2 linked regions of the Homo sapiens genome follow. The protein of the gene in region 1 interacts with the protein of each later gene in a biochemical or structural test. Each region holds a gene or a part of one and is shown on either strand. Other genes may lie near its edges.

Region 1 (5,552 bases):
AGGCGGATCATGAGGTTGGGAGATTGAGACCATCCTGGCCAATATGGTGAAACCCCGTCTCTACTAAAAATACAAAAATTAGCTGGGCGTGGTGGTGCATCCTGTAATCCCAGCTACTTGGGAGGCTGAGGCAGGAGAATCGCTTCCACCTGGGAGTCAGAGGTGGCAGTGAGCCGAGATCATGCCACTGCACTCCAGCCTGGTGAGAGAGTGAGACTCCATCTCAAAAAAAAAAAGTTTATTAAAATTCCACTGAAATGAGATATCTTGTTTTCTATACTGCACAAGAATTTCCTTATGAATTAAACAACCATCACAATTTTTTATTGTCTTATTATTCTTCTCAGACTCCTGTTAGGACTGTTTAGCACAATTGTGACCCAGTGCTTGAGATTTCAGGCCTGATGACCTTGTTCTCTCTTCTGTGGGTCAGAATTGGGGAACTTCATCTATGGTAGTAAACTTTGTTAAGTTTCTTTTCATTCCAGAGGATCCAAAATTATTTCTTTGATTTAATACACAGGAACAATAGAAAAATGCAAAATGCAGCCACCTTAAGAGTTATTACAGCTAAGAAGAATTAGTTATGGAAACATAAAAGAACATGGTTCTTTAAAAAGATGCTCTTAAAAACATTAAAATCTTTTCCAATGCCATAAAAGAGATAATGACATATAACTTTTTTCCTTTTTTAAATTAATAAAAGCTAAAATAATCCACCATCATTGCATGAAATTCTCTTGGGCTGGTTCTATTCTTCTTAGTCCACTTTCAGTATCATGTTTTAACATCCACATTATACTTTTTTAATAACATTATTTCCTTTCCTCAAAAATGCTAATGAACGGTCATAGCCAAATCAAACGAACACAAATAGTTTAGAGATGTGTTGTCCAGTAGTTTTCTTCTATGGATGGAAGTGTACTATTCTTTGTTGTACAATATAGCAGTCACTAGCCATATGTGACTATTGAGCGCTCGAAATGTGGCTAGTGGAACTAATGGGGTCTTTAATTTTATCTATTTAAAATTTAAATAGCTATCTGTAGCTACTGGCTGCCATATTTGACAGTACAACATTAGAACCCAGAAATAAATAACCGGCCTATAACAGTACTCCGTATTAGCTTTGGGACCCATTAACCAGAAGTTATTTCCCAGAACTTACAATTCCATCTAAGAATTACCATCCCCTAATCTAAGAATAACTACCATCCCCAAATCCCGAAGGTTACACACAAAAGGTGTATTTAAATAAAATGAACACTTGCGGTTGTTATTTAACATGCTATTTTTAAAAATTATTTATTTATTTATTTTTTATTTTATTTTTTCATATTTATTTTTTTAACATGCTATTAAAAGATAATTTTAACAATAATAAGGACAAGAAAATCGAGTGAGAAAGAAATGATGAAAAAATATTGTTTTTTCCTTTTGTCTTACTACCCACATCTAACTGGTGAGTACTCTGGGCTATACTTCCAAAATCCATCCACTTTTTTTCATCTCTCCTGCCTCCATCATAGTTCAAGCTACCATCATCTCTTGCTTAGAGTACAGTAAAAGCTTCCCAACTTGTCCCCCTACTTTCTCTCTTGGTCCCTAAGTCGCTCATAAAATGGCCAGGGTGATTGTCTTAAAATGCAAATGATATCACATTATTCTTGTCCTTAAAATTTTTTTCAGTGACTTCTTCTATCCTTGGAATATATTCCAAACTTCATTAAATAAGCCTACCTAACCCCAATTCTTCCTTCTTCTACTTCTCAGAACTCATCATGGCATCATTTTCATCCTCACTTGCCACAGCCCTGTCACACTTTCTTTTCCACTGCTCGAACAGACCAAAAATTTGTCTGGCTCAAGACCTTAGCGCTTACTGTTTCTTGTGTGTGGAATGCTATTTGCTCAGATCTTCAGATGGGCAACGCTTGTTATTCATGCTGCAGCTCAAATATCCTTCTCAAAAGAGGTTTCCCTGACACTTTACCTAATGTTGCCACCTAGTGACTATTACATCCTTCTGTTTTATTTTCAGATTTTATTTTCACAACCTGAAATAATCCTTCTTTCCTTTGTCTACTTGTTTCTGTCTTCCTTCCTCCTCTAGAATGACTCCGTGAGAACGGGAAGCATGTCTTCCCCGCCTGGCACATAGTACGCTCTCAATAATTGGAGGAAAAAACCCTAGATTTTCTATAACTATCATTTTAGCTCCTAAATAAATTGGTCAAGTTTGGTGAACTCTCCCAAGGCTGCCTCAGAACTAACAAATTAAAATGGAGATATTTAATCACTCCACTCAAAAGCTGCTTAACACCCTCATTTAACACAGTCAAAAAATTTTAACTTTTTTTTCCTTGAGTTTTACACCCTATTCCATCTATCAGTTGCCAATACAGCTGTGGAATAAAAAGTCCTAAAACCTCTCATAACAGCCTTCCAGGAGGTTAGTTTCTTTAGCTTTCCTTCTCAGTAACTTTGAGGCTATCCCTAAGGAGCCTCTTTTTCAGTTTTTAGGTAAGGAGCCTGCTGGGAATGCAGTGTCACAGGAAACTAATTCTTGAACAGGGCAGATTGGTCACAGGCCCAGTATATTTTAATATATTTATTCTGTAAATGGGCTTTTTAAAGTAAATAATAACAAAGTAAACTCTCAGAGATGAAACATTGTTAGACATATTTATTATACTACCACAGGAGAAATATTTCAAGAAAAATAAGGCTAAAAACTGTTGGAGATAATACCTTCAAGGCATTTTCTACCATCTTAGGTAGTAATCTGAAATGTCCAGGGAATTTTTAACCCATTTTAAAATGCATTTTTAGGCAGGGTGCAGGGGATCACACCTGTAATCCCAGCACCTTAGGAGGCAGAAATGGGAGAATCATATGAGGCCAGGTATTAGAGACCAGCCTGGGCAACACAGTGAGATCCTGTCTTTACACAAAATTAAAAAAATATATATATCAGCCAGGCATGGTGGTGCATGCCTGTAGTCCTAGCTACTAGGGAGGCTGGGGTGGGAGGATCATTTGAGCCCAGGAATTTGAGGCTGCAGTGAGCTATGATCATGATTGCTCCATCCTGAGTCACAGAGCAAGACTCTGTCTCAAAATATTTTTAAATGTCTTTATTATTGTTTCTTGGTAGGAAACAATACAAAGGTAAGATTCTCCTTCACTGTGCATGCCAAATCAACAAGACCCAAATCTAAGTATTATTAATAGATCCTTTTTAACTTACAGGATATATAAGCAGACACAGTCATGAAATGGTCAATCTACATACAAGCAGTTAGAGCTGTACCCAGAATCTTAAAAAGAAAATCAATCTTGTACAAAATTTCTCTGGTCTGTTACAATATGCATTCTTTTTTTTTAAATTTTTTTTTGAGACGGAGTCTGGCTCTGTCACCCAGGATGGAGTGCAGTAGCACGATCTCTATTCACTGCAACCTCTGCCTCCTGACTTCAAGCGATTCTACTGCCTCAGCCTCCTGAGTAGCTGGGATTACAGGCATGCACTGCCACACCCGGCTATGTATTTTAAAAGAGATGGGGTTTTGCCATATTGACCAGGCTGGTCTCGAACTCCTGACCTCAAGTGATCCACCCGTCTCGGCCTCCCAGAAAGTGCTGTCATTACAGGTGTGAGCCACCACCCCTGGCCAACGATATGAATTCTCAACAACAACAAAAAAGTACTGCCCCTAACAGCATTCCACCCAAGAAAAGCTTATGTAAAACATTTATACAGCCCATAGAAGCATAAACCAGATGAAGACAATGTGCCTATGGCTACTCTTCAGGTATTTTTAGTGACTGAGTCTATTACCTATTATCATAAATCTTACCATGAGCTCTCGTTTTTCCTAAGGAGTCTGAAATACAGCATTTTAATAGGCAGTACCCAACCTGACAACTGGATTAAATGCTAAAAATGCATTTATATCTATTTGTTGTTTGCACTTCTAGGTACAATTTCTTATAGAACGACTGCAGAGAAATTCAGCCTATGTGACCTAAAATACAGTTGAATGAGTACTTACTGCCCCTCTGTTCTTACTATTAATGAAGAAGACAGGTATCCTAGTGCCCTGTAGAGAAGGAATTTCTGAAACGTGAAGGACTGTGTGTTACCCTCAGAGAGGCACTTATGCACCTTCTTTATCCTTATTAGTTGTTCCTAAAACCTAAGATACAGGTATGGCAACTATAATCACTATGAGAATACATGTATATATATAACCCAGGAACCAAGCAAAACAAAATGCCAATTGTCCTCTCTGAAGATCAGCACCCTTGAAAAGTTCACACAATTCAAGTTTATACTTTTAATTATTTTCCTGAGGGACATGAAAATAACTGGAACAAAACAAAATAACAGTCTGAATTGTATGAACTGTATAAAGGAATTCAGCACAAAGCCTGGAAGCAGAATGCTTATGATCTGGTATGATTCACACCCCCTCTTTTCTACTTATAGAATGGCAGAAATCATAAAGCAAAACCATTGTAAATTTAACTTGGAAATGTAAAGAGCAATGTCAAATGTCCCAAGTCTATAGTTTAAGTGATTATAGAAAGAAATAATAGGCTTTACTAGTCACTGATAAACAATGTGGTTTAAAACATTTTCAGATTTGTTAAAATTTAAAGGAAACTAGTCTTATTTATGGATTTAATATTCATATTAACTTTTCCAATATCACAGAGTATCTCAAAACACTTTCAACAGTAAAGATGAGATTAACTTATTTCCAAAAACCCTTTGATGTATCATTAGTACAAACAACATGCAATTACACTACATTTTGAGACAAACAGAATGAATATGCTACCAAAGCAGCATGACATACAACACCATGCTAATAGTAGATGACAAGCAAACCTTAAAATTAGGGATGACGGGTGTGATGTTTTTGCATAGAAGTGATAGCTGACCCAGAAGGGCAGGCATCGGTGGCCTTATAGAGAAGCAGATTGGGATGCTAATAAAAATTGTAGGGGTAAGGAAGAGAAGGACAGGAGAATTAAGCTACAAAGCAAAGATGTGAAATATCTCCATTTTGCCTGTATGTTATCCACCCATCCAACCAACCAGTTATTAAAATACTTAAAAGGAACTAGACACTTATCAAGTCTTGTTCTTACTTGGGTCAAAGGCACATACAGTGTTTGCATGGTTGCATAAAAGTGCAATTTGATCTCAGTACAGAAAAATCTAATTGGTACTCACTCATTGAATTCACCCTCAACCTTGGTCTCATTAGTAAGTGCTCACTGACTGAAACTTTGCAACTTTTGGGTCAGTTGGTCCTCTAGCCATACATTCAACTCTGAGAAAGTCTCTAACCTAATCTGTTTTTAGCTTCAATGGCCTCTCCTGCCAGATAAAACCAAAGTAAGGAAATAGAATGTCTTGCGAAAAGCTGTGGAAACGCACAGGCAACTGGAATAATGGAGCCATATCCCAGATACAACTTGGAGCTATAACTTATCTCTTGACTTCTAAATTAAGACACAGATTAATGGCGCATACATAT
Region 2 (3,633 bases), on another chromosome or scaffold:
AAGAATACATGGGCACGCATGTGTTAATGGGAAGACATGGAAGCCTTTGGTTGCTAAATTGAGACGAAAGTAAAGAGGAAGTTTGAAAAGTTTGGGGCAAAGAACCCTCTAGAACAGAAAATAGAGATGGTAAATTTATAAGTAATAGGATAACGATCATAAATTAGAAGTGAGTTCACCCAGCTTGACTCTGTGTTTCTAGCCATTTGGGCATCAGGCTCAGGTTGGGCAGAGAGTTGGATTTATCCAGATTTGGTTTATCCAGATCTGGTTTGATTTATCCAGATCTGGTTTATCCAGATGAAGACACTGGGGTAGGGATTGGTCATATGATTAGTGGTAGACTTTATACTTGGATAAAGAGGGGAGAAAAGGGGAAAATGAGGGTTGTTTTTTTTTTTTTAAATTGTTTTGTAGAAATGGAGTTGCACTGTGTTACTCAAGCAGTCTTGAACTCCTGCCCTCAAGTGATCCTCCCCAAGTGCTAGGATTACAGGTGTGAGCCACTGTGCCCAACCTTGGAGTGAGATGAATAGGTGATAGAATCGCTGTATTACAGGTCCTAGATTAAGAATGAGAAAACAATAAGGAATTACCTAAGAAAAATAGGAAGGTACATAATTGGAAAGTTGAGTGGTATAATTGAAAAAACCCAGGTAGAAAACAGCTGGACTGGGAGGTCAGTCTGAAAGCCCAGGTTATTAGAAGCTGTTACACTCGAACCTTAGTAATAACTGCAGTAAGAAAAAGATAGTAAATGGAGCAGAATCCAAAATAAGATGGAAAGCCTAGTTTTTAGAAACTGGGAGAGTTGATTTAGAAGCCACAATAAGGTTAGAACAGTCACCACTGTAGGGTTGCAGAGAAAAGTCAGAACAATTTTGTTGAAGATTCATCATGAGTTCCAAAAGATGTGGGGAAAGAGTTTTAGAATGTACAAAGGTAAATGTGAATTTATTCCCATGATGACTCATGGATACTAAAGGCCTGGGGCTTTCTGGAGTGCTCAGAGTATGGGCAGAGGAAAGGCCAGGAATCCATCATTTCTGAGCACTGGGGGAAAGAAAATCCCAAAATTTAGTATCTTTATCTTGGTGATTAAAAGACTCAAGCCTGTAATCCCAGCACTCTTTGGGAGGCCAAGGAGGGAGGATAGCTTGAGGTCAGGAATTCAAGACCAGCCTTGGAAACATAGCAACACATCGCTACTAAAAATCAGACATTAATGAGACGTGGGGGGCTTGCCTATAGTCCCAGTTACTCAGGAGTCTGAGGTGGGAAGATCACTTGAGCCTGGGAGATTGAGGCCACAGTGAGCTGTCATCATTCCATGGCACTTTAGTCTGGGCAACAAAGCAAGACTCTTCCCCCTACTCAGCATCCCCCCCCCCCCAAAAAAAAAAACCCATCTCTTTACACAAATTGCCTACAGACCACTTGATACAGAATGGGCCAGACATGGTGAGTTAGTTGTGAACCAACTGGTTACACTGGTGGGTGTGTTGAAGAGAGAAGGTTTTATCATTCTTAAGTTTGACACCGTTCATTGCAGGGGCCCTCCTCGCCAAAGACAGCCTAGAGAGGACGGCAATGAAGAAGATAAAGAAAATCAAGGAGATGAGACCCAAGGTCAGCAGCCACCTCAACGTCGGTACCGCCGCAACTTCAATTACCGACGCAGACGCCCAGAAAACCCTAAACCACAAGATGGCAAAGAGACAAAAGCAGCCGATCCACCAGCTGAGAATTCGTCCGCTCCCGAGGCTGAGCAGGGCGGGGCTGAGTAAATGCCGGCTTACCATCTCTACCATCATCCGGGTAAGCAAGCTTGGATGGCCATCCATTTATGGCAGTCGTGAGTGGTGACCATTTCGTTTTATTAATGCAAGAGTAGAAAAACCTCAGTTCCATCAGATAATGAAAGCCATGTTATTTATAATGTGTTCTGCCCTATTCTTAATTACCTAATATTTCATTTTAGGAATATTGAATATCAGAGTCATATTTGGCCACCCTTCAGCTAGTTCTCAATTCTGACACTGGAGACCTGTATTTTCATGAGTATTTTGAACTATTAGTGCTTTCTATCAACTTTTCTGAATGAATTTTATGATTTCACTAGTAAACAGAGGAAAGTTTTGCTAGCTGTATTCTGAGAAATATGTTAATTACATTATTATTTATGCATTATTTCAAAAAGGAAGTGGGGATAGCTGTTAGAATTAACCTAGATGGTGACAAATAGAGTCTGTTTGGAGAAAGTGGCAACATTAATATAATCTTTTAATCATTTCTAATTGTTTTTTTTTTTTGTTGGTTTATGTTGTTCCCGGAAAAAGACGAGAGTGTTTCGTGTCTAAAAAACTCCTAGAATGACACGTGGTTTATCATGGTTTATTTAAACTGCCTGTAGATTAATAATAATAATTCTCTGGCAGACCACATGATACAATTACGTTCTTGTTACTTTAGCTCATTAGCTCACTTGTTTTTATTACCCTTAATTCCAAAATTAAGGGATTCTTTTTCATTTCGCTTTTTACATGATATCGAGAGGTACGTGATTGTTGTTCCCTCCAAAATTAGCATTCAACCAGTGGTGCTTTTGGTTTTTTCCCGTTTACTATTTGCTGGATGGCAAGAGATCTGTTAATGTCTCCCAATACACAAGTAATGTAAACTAGGGCATGTACTACACTAAATGAAGATCACCATGAATTCTACATGATCATCTTTATTTTTTTCTTTACAGTTTAGTCATCCAACAAGAAGAAATATGAAATTCCAGCAATAAGAAATGAACAAAAGATTGGAGCTGAAGACCTAAAGTGCTTGCTTTTTGCCCGTTGACCAGATAAATAGAACTATCTGCATTATCTATGCAGCATGGGGTTTTTATTATTTTTACCTAAAGACGTCTCTTTTTGGTAATAACAAACGTGTTTTTTAAAAAAGCCTGGTTTTTCTCAATACGCCTTTAAAGGTTTTTAAATTGTTTCATATCTGGTCAAGTTGAGATTTTTAAGAACTTCATTTTTAATTTGTAATAAAAGTTTACAACTTGATTTTTTCAAAAAAGTCAACAAACTGCAAGCACCTGTTAATAAAGGTCTTAAATAATTGTCTTTGTGTAAATTTGTCTAGTTTTGCTTTAGTTTGTAAGTATTTAGCTATTTATAGGACCCTTAGCTTGACCCAGTCTACAAATAGATGATGCTCACTGGTAATTCCCTCAGGTAAAATGTCTCAAAATCTCTAATCCTTTAAGTGGCATGCCTGTGGGCCCATACTAAAAATTAGAAAATACATACTCTGATAACCTGGCCATTTTTCATTGAAGGATTTAGCTCATTTGTAAGAAAGACTTGAGTGTAGATTTTGGGTGGGTCCCTTTGGCTGTGAGGCATTGTTTAAAAGGGCATTGCTCTAGCCTAGACCGACCAGACTCTCATCCTGCTCCACTTAGTTTTGTCACCTTGGGAGAATTTGTTTCAGTGTGTCAATTGAAGATGCCAATTGAAGTGTTAGGACAACCTGTCACACTGCCTGGTGTGGTCATCAAATATTGGTTCAGCTCCTTATGTCCTAGAGATGGAAACAAGTAATATAAAACCCATGGGAAAGCTGCTTAGG

The links.
Region 2: of the proteins of FBXO33 (region 1) and YBX1, one has a biochemical effect on the other in vitro, tested with the Homo sapiens proteins (one study listed by BioGRID).

Annotation. Positions count from the first base shown.
Region 1 is NC_000014.9:39,424,826-39,430,377, forward strand, and holds part of FBXO33 (F-box only protein 33), read right to left. Parts: intron 1-5,552. UniProt on the Homo sapiens protein: Substrate recognition component of a SCF (SKP1-CUL1-F-box protein) E3 ubiquitin-protein ligase complex which mediates the ubiquitination and subsequent proteasomal degradation of target proteins. Probably recognizes and binds to phosphorylated target proteins.
Region 2 is NC_000001.11:42,699,229-42,702,861, forward strand, and holds part of YBX1 (Y-box-binding protein 1), read left to right. Parts: intron 1-1,552; coding exon 1,553-1,787; 3' UTR 1,788-1,818; intron 1,819-2,752; 3' UTR 2,753-3,633. UniProt on the Homo sapiens protein: DNA- and RNA-binding protein involved in various processes, such as translational repression, RNA stabilization, mRNA splicing, DNA repair and transcription regulation.